Linked DNA regions of Homo sapiens: region 1 is linked to region 2. Evidence: fine-mapped expression QTL. A gene starts in region 2. The other region holds a variant in brackets. All regions are shown on one strand. Distances are between the middles of the regions.

Evidence for each region. PIP is the estimated chance that this variant, and not a neighbour inherited with it, causes the effect. A credible set is the group of variants that fine-mapping cannot tell apart.
Region 1: its variant is the best candidate, but not a certain one, in a credible set for the expression of HPF1 in whole blood (INTERVAL, PIP 0.80).

The regions. Positions count from the first base shown.
Region 1 is chr4:169,171,394-169,175,788 of GRCh38, reverse strand. All of the region lies in intron 2 of SH3RF1 (SH3 domain containing ring finger 1), which reads left to right. Among named protein-coding and RNA genes, the nearest start is that of SH3RF1, 97 kb to the left of the region's middle. The variant A/TATATATAA (reference allele first, on the strand shown) is at 1,790.
Region 2 is chr4:169,756,213-169,760,607 of GRCh38, reverse strand. HPF1 (histone PARylation factor 1) reads left to right here and starts at 2,664. Exons shown (of 8, transcript NM_017867.3): 1 at 2,664-2,778. The coding sequence starts at 2,731. LOC107986240 (a long non-coding RNA gene) reads right to left here and starts at 2,545. Exons shown (of 3, transcript XR_001741529.2): 1 at 2,384-2,545. RefSeq lists an enhancer at 2,747-2,816.

The DNA of each region.
Region 1 (4,395 bases), 580 kb after region 2:
TGTGTACAACTTGCCTCAGGTATGGATATAGGCCTGTGATTCTCTGTTGAACAAGACAGTTTTTTTAGAGCTTATGGTCTAGTGGTTTTGGGTGGGTCGGTGCCTAGTCATGATAAATGTCATGAAGAAAACGAGCAGGGTAGAAAGTTCAGGGTGAGGAAGTTGTGTTGGGTGCTGGTTGGGTTGAGGCTATTGTGGGATAATCAGGGAAGCCTTCTGAGATGACATTAGAGCAGAGACCTGAATGATGATTAGGAATAAGCCTGTAAAGAATATTCTAAGCAGAAGGAAAAGTAAGAGAAGGATCCTGAGGCAGGGAAGAGCCTGGAGTGGTCAAGAAGCAACAACAAGGCCAGTGTAGCAGGAGTAGGATGTAGGGATGGGAGAAGAATTGGAGAGGGAGCCAGAGAGGTTAGCCGGGACCAGATGATAGAAAGCCTTGGGAGCCACAGGAAGGAGTTTGTATTTCAAGTGGGAGGGAAAGCCGTTCTGAGGTTAACAGGCAAGACTGTGGATAATAGGTGCTAGGGTGTTAATAGTGGCAATACAGATGGTGTTGATCTGGCTTGGGCTGGTAGCAGTAGAAATTGTCAGAAGTGGACTGACTGGGGGTTGTTCTGAAGTCAAAGCTGGCAGACTTGCTGATGCATTAAGTGGATGTGCAATGTGAAAGAATGGGAACGGAGGCATCATGGTGAAGCCCAGTCTTTTGGCCCAAGCAACGAGGTGAACAGTGGGCTATTTACCAACATTGGGGAAAACTGGTAGAGGATCAGATTTTCATGGGGGTAGGTGGAAACCAAGAGGTCTGTTTTGGACACGTTGATTTGTGGATGCCTATTAGATATTCAACAGGAGATGTGAAGTAGGCCCTTGGTGCGCAGGGGAGAGGTTATAGCTGAGGTTAGATCTGGGAGACATCGTTGTGTAGATCCACAGTTCTTAGCGCTTCATATGAGAGTCACTAAGGAGCTTTTCAAAATCCGTATGCTTCTGACCCAGCCCCAGAGATTTTTATTTAATTGGTTTGGGGTGGGGCTTTAGAAAACTTTAAAAGAAGAAGAAAAAATGACTCCCTAGTTGATCCTAATATGCAGTCAGGGTTGAGAATGGCTTGTGTAAATGGTTTTAAAAGAAGGAAATAGATGAGATCATCTTGGGAGTAAATTTAGTTAGAAAAGAGCAAATGTCAGAAGATGGAGCAATTGAGAAAGAAAAACACCCAAAGGAGATTGGGAAGGAGATTGATACTGGATTCCCCTTTTACTCAAAGTGTGGCTCCCTGGGCAGCATCAGTATCACCTGAGACTGTTAGAAATGCAGTCTCTCTTGCCCCACCCAGAGGTACTGAATCAGACTATGTATGCATTTAACAGGAAGTCCAGGTGATTCGTGCCCTCATTAAAGCTTGAAAAGCACCAGTTTTGGCCTGGCATGATGGCTCACGCCAATAATCCCTGCACTTTGGGAGGCTGAGGCGGGAGGATTGCTTGAGTCTTAAGAATTTGAGAGCAGCCTAGGCAACATAGAGAGACCCTACCCCTACAAAACATACAAAAATTAGCCAGGTATGCTGGTACGTGCCTGTAGTCACAGCTTTCGAGGGGCTGAAGAGAGAGGATCACTTCAGCCCGGAGGTCGGGGCTGCAGTGAGCCATGATTGCGCCACTGCACTCTAGCCTGGGTGACAGAGTGAGACCCTGTCTCAAGAAAAGCATTGGTTTTTATTGTGTTATCAGGATGGGGCTGCTTCAGGTATGAATTCAGTCACCATATATATATATATATA[A/TATATATAA]CTCAGGAAATTACAATTGAAGAACTAGCATTAGCCGTATCCTTAAAGTCAGGTATTTGGTAGTGGTGGTGTGTGGGTAGGGTGATCTTATTTTTCTAAAAGACTTGGTGAGAAAGAGGGTAATAGCCATATTCTTTTAAACATTTAAAAATCTTGTCTCTGATTAATGAAGTTTTCATAACCAAGGTTCTAAGACATGGCCAACTTGCTACCCCTCCTCTTTAAAAGTAGCTTATTAAAAAAAAAGGTAGCTTGTAAATGGTTAGATAGTGGTTTCCACATATTTCACAAGCTCAGTAAGCTAACCCCTCTCAAATTAAGGGAAGGTATTTAGGCTTTTATTGTTTTCTCCAGAGCTAACATGTGTAACCCTCCAGACCCCAGGATCTACAGCGCCTCAGGATCACCAGCTCCTCAGACACAAACACTTAAGGTGAAATCATACTAATTGAATCACAAGGTCTTGCAGAAGCAGGGAGCATGATTGTAGTGACAATTTATATCTTGTTTTTCATTTCCTCAATCACTGGACTTACTGTGTTCTTTTGCTACTTTTTTTTTTTTAATCCCAGAAAAAACTTAGCACAGCAAGCTTGTATTTATTATAAGACATACAGTCTGAATAACAAGGGGGCACGGTGGGAGTTTTACTAATGTCATATTAATATTTTGTTAAGGTGCCTGAGTCAATTATTTGGTGCAACTGAATATCTTAATCAGGAATGGTCAGGAGCAAGTAGGAGTGGGATTAGGTGGATGAGCAGGGACAATAGTAAGGGTCCATCTAGATTTGCTTCTTTTCTTTTAAAAGTTGATCTACTATGTGGTTGGCGAAGAAAAATACAGAAGGCTTCAATTGCATTTATAATGCTTTATTTCTCAAGTCAGTTTGTGGATACAGTGGATTATCTTTTTTATTATTACTCCTCTTTGTATATCTTAATTATTTAGTAAACAAGATACTCTATTTATAGCAAGTGTATTAGAATTTCACACACTTTTTCTTACACATTTTAGTTTTAGAGTAATATCTGTTCATGATAGAAAATACATAACCTCAAAGAAGATTCTAAAATAGAGAGCAAGAGTGTCCCTCTCTCTTCTCTCCTACCCTAGTCCTGCTTTCCAGGGGTAAGTGCTATTACTGTTTTCTATTCTTTAGTTCTACTGGTTACCATTACATCCCACCTTCTTCGCTTGCTTTGTTCTAGCCGCGCTGGCAGCCAATTGGTGGGTCTTTCTCTCCCAGCCCAAATGTCAGTCAAATGTCAGTCTCCTCTGGCAACACCCTCACCCCTGCCAGCCAACAATACCTTAGCAACCATCTAGGCATCCCTCAATCTGATCAAGTTGACACCTAATGTGAACCATAATAGTTGACCCCTTGTCAACTTAGCCCCATACACATCTCCTTAAATCATACTTAATCTCCAAATAAAAACAATAAGGTCATAATTACACCTAACATAATACAACTATATTTTGTACAACTGAAAATGCCCTAATCCTTAACCTAAATGCTATTATATAAAGTTAATGACATTTAAATGCTGATATGAAGTCAATAAATCTCATGTTACATGATAAAGGAAGAAGAAAGGAAGTAAAACGAAGATATTTTCTGAGTACAGGTATATCCATGTACGGGCATATTCTTAAAATAAGGAGGAATTACTCATGATAGTACAGTCCTCCTTTCTGTAACTGGACACATGGTTTTAGCCAGTATTGATAACTGCCTTCTTCTACTACTCATTCTGTATTCCCTTTGCCTTCAGCAAGCAACTGAGCTGGTCGTGGCTTTTTACCTGGTGGGGTGACCCAAGCCTTCAATAATATGTTTTCAGCTCTTGCTTTCTTAGGCTCATACAGTATCAATTTCAGAGTGGAAAATTTAGAGTACTTCTACCTCCCACCTTCCTTTAAGCCTAACTCTTGGTTTTAGTTCAGTGTATTGTTATTTTGATATTGTCAGAGTTTATAACATTCTATTCTGTAGCTGTAATTAATTCCCCAAGTCCCATAAAAATAGCATTTGCAGTATTATGATTATATAAACATGATTCACTGCAGTGCGGATGGAGAAGAAGCAGATATAACCTTTCACCAGACCCTGCCCCACCTCTAGATCCAGTGGATCTTTTTAAAATTTCATTTTCTTCATCTCTTCTAGATCATATTGAGCCATCCACATTTCTTGTATCACATTTCATTTCTCTAGGAGTCTTCTGTGGTTTTTTGTGAGGGGAATATTGTAGGCTGGGAGATACTTCCTTGCATAATTGTTATAGTTTTCACTTGAAAGGCACAGGTAATAAAGTTTCTGAGATTTGGGGTGTTCAAAAATAATCAGTATTTTGTTCAGACACATATTTAACAGTTTAGCTGGCCAAGTTCTTCTAAATCATGCTCCCTTAGAAATGTAAAGCCTTTTTTCTGCTGTCTACTTTTCTCCTATATTACTATCAATAAGTCATATTCTACTTACATTCCACCTCTGACCCAAATCTTTTAGAATTTTTCACTTATCTTTGGAGTTTTGAATTGTAATGAGATGTGCCTGAATACGGTCTGTTTCCCCCTCATTAATCTGCTTAGCACTTAAT
Region 2 (4,395 bases):
TAATCGGTATTACTGAGTGTCTGCGGGGGCACTAAGTAAAAGAGATTATCCTCACCAATGTGGGTGGGCATCATCTTATCCATTCGGGTCTGAATAAAACAAAAAGGTAGAGGAAGGGAGGATTCACTCTCTCTCTGCTAGATTCTTGAACTGAATCTTTGATCTTTTCCTGCCCTTGGTGATCCTGGTTTGCAAGACTTCAAACTCGAACTGGAATCTACACCATTGGCTCCCCAGTTATCAGGGCTTCAAACTACAATATGGGCTTTCTGGATCTTCAGCTTGCAGACAGCAGATTATGCAGCTTCTCAACCCCTATAATCACGTGAGCTAATAGATAGCTAGATACAGATGTAGGTATAGATATAGATAAATAGATACCTATTTGTTCTGTTTCTCTGGAGAACCCCGACTAATACAGTGCATATAATGAAATTATTAAGACTCCCAGCCTCCTTCCTGCATTGGGCTCCAAGAAGTCTGTATATTCTCAAAGTGAGTAATTAGAAGATTACTCTCTAGAAGAAAATAAACAGCTGGTTCTTTCCCCATCATCTTACACCTTGTCCAGCAGTAAACAAGCCTTGCCTATGTCCCCAAAGCACCTTTTTAGAGCCTCATTTTTACATATAAATTGACAGCAAGGATCACCACACAAGATGAAGAATGCCTCTAGCAGAAACAACAGGAACCAAATGTAAACAAACAAACAACCAAAAAAGACTCAAAAGAATCAAAGTCAATGCAGAGTTACGTAGAAAGCATTTTTAAAAACGCTATAATTGACATCTTCAGAGATAAAAGGAGCTATATTCATGAAAAATAATGTAATGCTATAAAAGAACAGAGAATAAAAAGAGCACTGAGAAATAAAGGTATAATACAGAAATTAAGTAATTAATCTTTATTAAGTATAATAAAGAAATTAAGTAATTGTCCAATTAAGTTGAGAAAGTCACAGAGAAAGTAGAATAAAAATATGAAGACATAGAAAATAGGACAGACAGGTAAGAAAAAACATCAGCCAAGAAGGTCCACGATCTAAATAACAAATTTCAAAAAAGAAGAGATACGATGGGGGGTGGGGGGGAAGAAATGATCAAATAAATAATACCAGAAGAATTCCCATAACTGAAGAACATGTGTTTCAGGATTGAAAAACTGGTCGATAGGAATGAGAAAAGACCCATAACCAAGACACTCAATAGTGTTTTAGAACACTGGGAATAGGCCGGACGCGGTGGCTCACACCCGTCATCCCAGCACTTTGGGAGGCCGAGGAGGGCGGATCACGAGGTCAGGAGATCGAGACCATCCTGGCTAACACGGTGAAACCCCGTCTCTACTAAAAATACAAAAAAAAAAAAAATTAGCTGGGCGTGGTGGCGGGCGCCTGTAGTCCCAGCTACTCCGGAGGCTGAGGTAGGAGAACGGTGTGAACCCGGGAGGTGGAGCTTGCAGTGAGCTGAGGTGGCACCACTGCACTCCAGCCTGGGCAACAGAGCGAGACTCCGTCTCAAAAAAAACAAAACAAAACAAAACAAAACAAAAAACACTGGAAACAGAGAAAAGATCCTAAAGCTTCTTGAGACAAAACAAAACAGAAAGGAAAGCAGGTTACATATCAAGAAATTTAGTGACCTGTGAAGGAGAAGGAAATATAACGACATAGTTTCTTAACAATTCTGGAAGCTAAAATATTGCGGAGCAAGCCCTCCAATATTCCGAGTGAAAGTTATTTTCAACCTAGAACTGTGCTCAGCCAGAATAAAAACATTTCCAGACATGCACACTCTGTGGGAAAAAAGACCTGGCAGCAACCTCTCTCAAGGAACTATTGGCGGATATGTTCCACAACATGAGGGTATATAATCAAGAAAAAGGAACACCCAGATTGAGGAAATAGAGAACTCATCTCAGGAATGAGGAATAAGACCTTCCCAGGATGGATGTGAAGGAGGTCCAAGGACATCAGTTGAGAGTTGTGCCTTCCAAATTTTATGTGCATAGGAATTACCAGGGGATCTTGTTGCGATGCAGATATTGATTCAGTAAGTCTGGGTAAGGCCTGAGATTTGGCGTTTTAACAAATTCCCTCAGGATGCTGAGGCCGCTGGTTCAGGGACTACACTTTGCATATCAGCGGTGTAGAGGAAAAACAGTCCAAATTGTACCAAGAAGACGACGGTACAGAGACAGAGACCGACAGACATTTATTTCCTTCTTGGAGACAATCGGGAATGAATTAGTGTAAGCCAATAACCGTACAGTAGGGTAGGGAGAGGGATGGAGGAGAAGGAGAAAAGGATTAATATTTTAAGTAAATATAAATGAAGAAAAAACAAGGAAGGGGCTGTATTGAGAACAGCCGCATACATCCAACCTTGCCTCTAGTAGACACCTGAAGAGGAAGGTTGGACCACTCTAAGGATTCAGATTCAGTAGTCTGGGGGGTCTCTGGAGCGACCCTGGAAGATGCTCCAGAAAGCCTAGATGCAGACTACGCTGACAGAAGACGCTCCTTGCACGCGCCCAGCACGGGAGTGGGCGGGGCCTCAACGCGTCCGGTGCCAGGTCTCAGGGGGCGGGGAATGGGCGGAGCCTTTCCCCTAAATTGGCGAGCCCGGGCGGCGCTGAAATTCGGCTTGGAGGCTTTTGAACCCGGAAGCGGTTGGCGGCGCTCGGAAGCGGCCGCGGATCGGGGAATTCTGCTGGCGCTGCAGCTGCAGAATGGTCGGCGGTGGCGGGAAGCGCAGGCCCGGCGGAGAGGGGCCGCAGGTACTGCCGGAAAGGCTGTGCGGGCTACGCGGGGCGCTTTGGGTGACAGCCAGGGCACCAGGAGGCAGCGCTTTTCATTCATCCAGTGACTATTAAGCTTGCTGTGTGTCCAGGGGCTGCGGTTTGCTGCGGGGATCCTGCCCAGGGCCGCTGTTTCGCGCTCTGCAGGGGGTTGGACCAGGAAAGTAGCTCCTCTGCATCTTCTGCCCAGCTCCTCTTGGAGCATTTCCTGGGGAAACGGATTAAGCCAACCAATGGTTCATTCGCCCAGCCAGATTGATTGGGAACCGATTACATACCTGACATTCTGTGGGGCGCTGCGGATTTGGGGGTCAACCTGCTTGCTCCTGCTGCTTGTTGAGCCCTCGGCCTGGGGAGGAGGGGCACAAGCAAATATGCATTCTACTGTGACTTTTTTGTTTGGGATTATAACGCTGGTGTGTAGAAAGTGCTATGGAAACACTGAAGGAGGATTTAACAAGTCCCAGGGGGTGTTAAAGAAGACTTTTAAGACAACTCTTTGAAAATTGGTTTTGAAGGCAGAGAAGTAAGATTCTGAGACATAAAACTGTAGGAGATGTTTGGGCGTAGCGGAGCGTTCGGCTTGGCTGGAGCCAGGGAAATGGGAAAATAAGAGGGACCTGATCATAAAAGCACTACTGAGAGGGGAGGAGGAGAGAGTGTGTGCATTCTCATACTTTACTACGATTTCGGAAGTTCTGTAACCACTACAGTAGCAATAAGGGGAATCAGGAAAGAAGTGCCATTGTGATAACTAAAGTTTTAGAAAAGTTACTCTGGTAGTGTCATAAATCGGACAGGGTGAGACATTCTTAGAGGGCTTAACTAACTGTTAAAGGGCCATCGGTATAGGCATCCTTCATATTGGGTCATGCATTCTAGGAAGACCAGGGTAAAGAAGAAGTGTAGCCTCTGAAGGGGACAGCTGTTCTAAATCCTAGTTGTTAGGGCTATGGAGATGCTGAACTAGTGTGTGAGTAAAGGCACAGCTGAAAAAATTCTCTTTTTGAAGGTGCAGTGAAGAACTGCTTTGGTGGAGTGATGTGCTTAACTAGAAATACAATAACAGAAATGAAGATGAGTCTGTAGAGACTATAACCGTAATGGCCAGCATTTGTATATTATGTGCTAGGACCGTTCTGTGTATTTTTACATATAATAACATTCCTTGTAACAACCCCGATATAGGCACTGTATGCCCTTTTTGCAGATGAGAAAACAAAGCACAGAGAGGTTAAGTAACTTGCCTAAGGTTGGAAATCAGTAGAGTCAGGAGTCAACCCAGGCAACCTAACTATTATGCAAAACTGCCTTTCAGCAAGGCAGATTAAGCCTTTTCTAACATCTTAAGTTGGAGCCAGTCTTTGAACGTCTGAACAAAGACAGTTATGAAAACAGAAGATAGGATAGCTCAGGACTTCATATGTTCCTACTGTTCTATATTTGATGTTGGAGAAGCAGCATAGTGAAGTGGTTGAGGATCTGCTGTGGACCCAGATTTAAACCTGAGTTTAAATCCCTTCTCTTCCACTTCCTAGTTAGGGACGTAGGGAGGTTAACCTCAGTTTCCTCAGCTGTACGATGAGGTTAATGGTA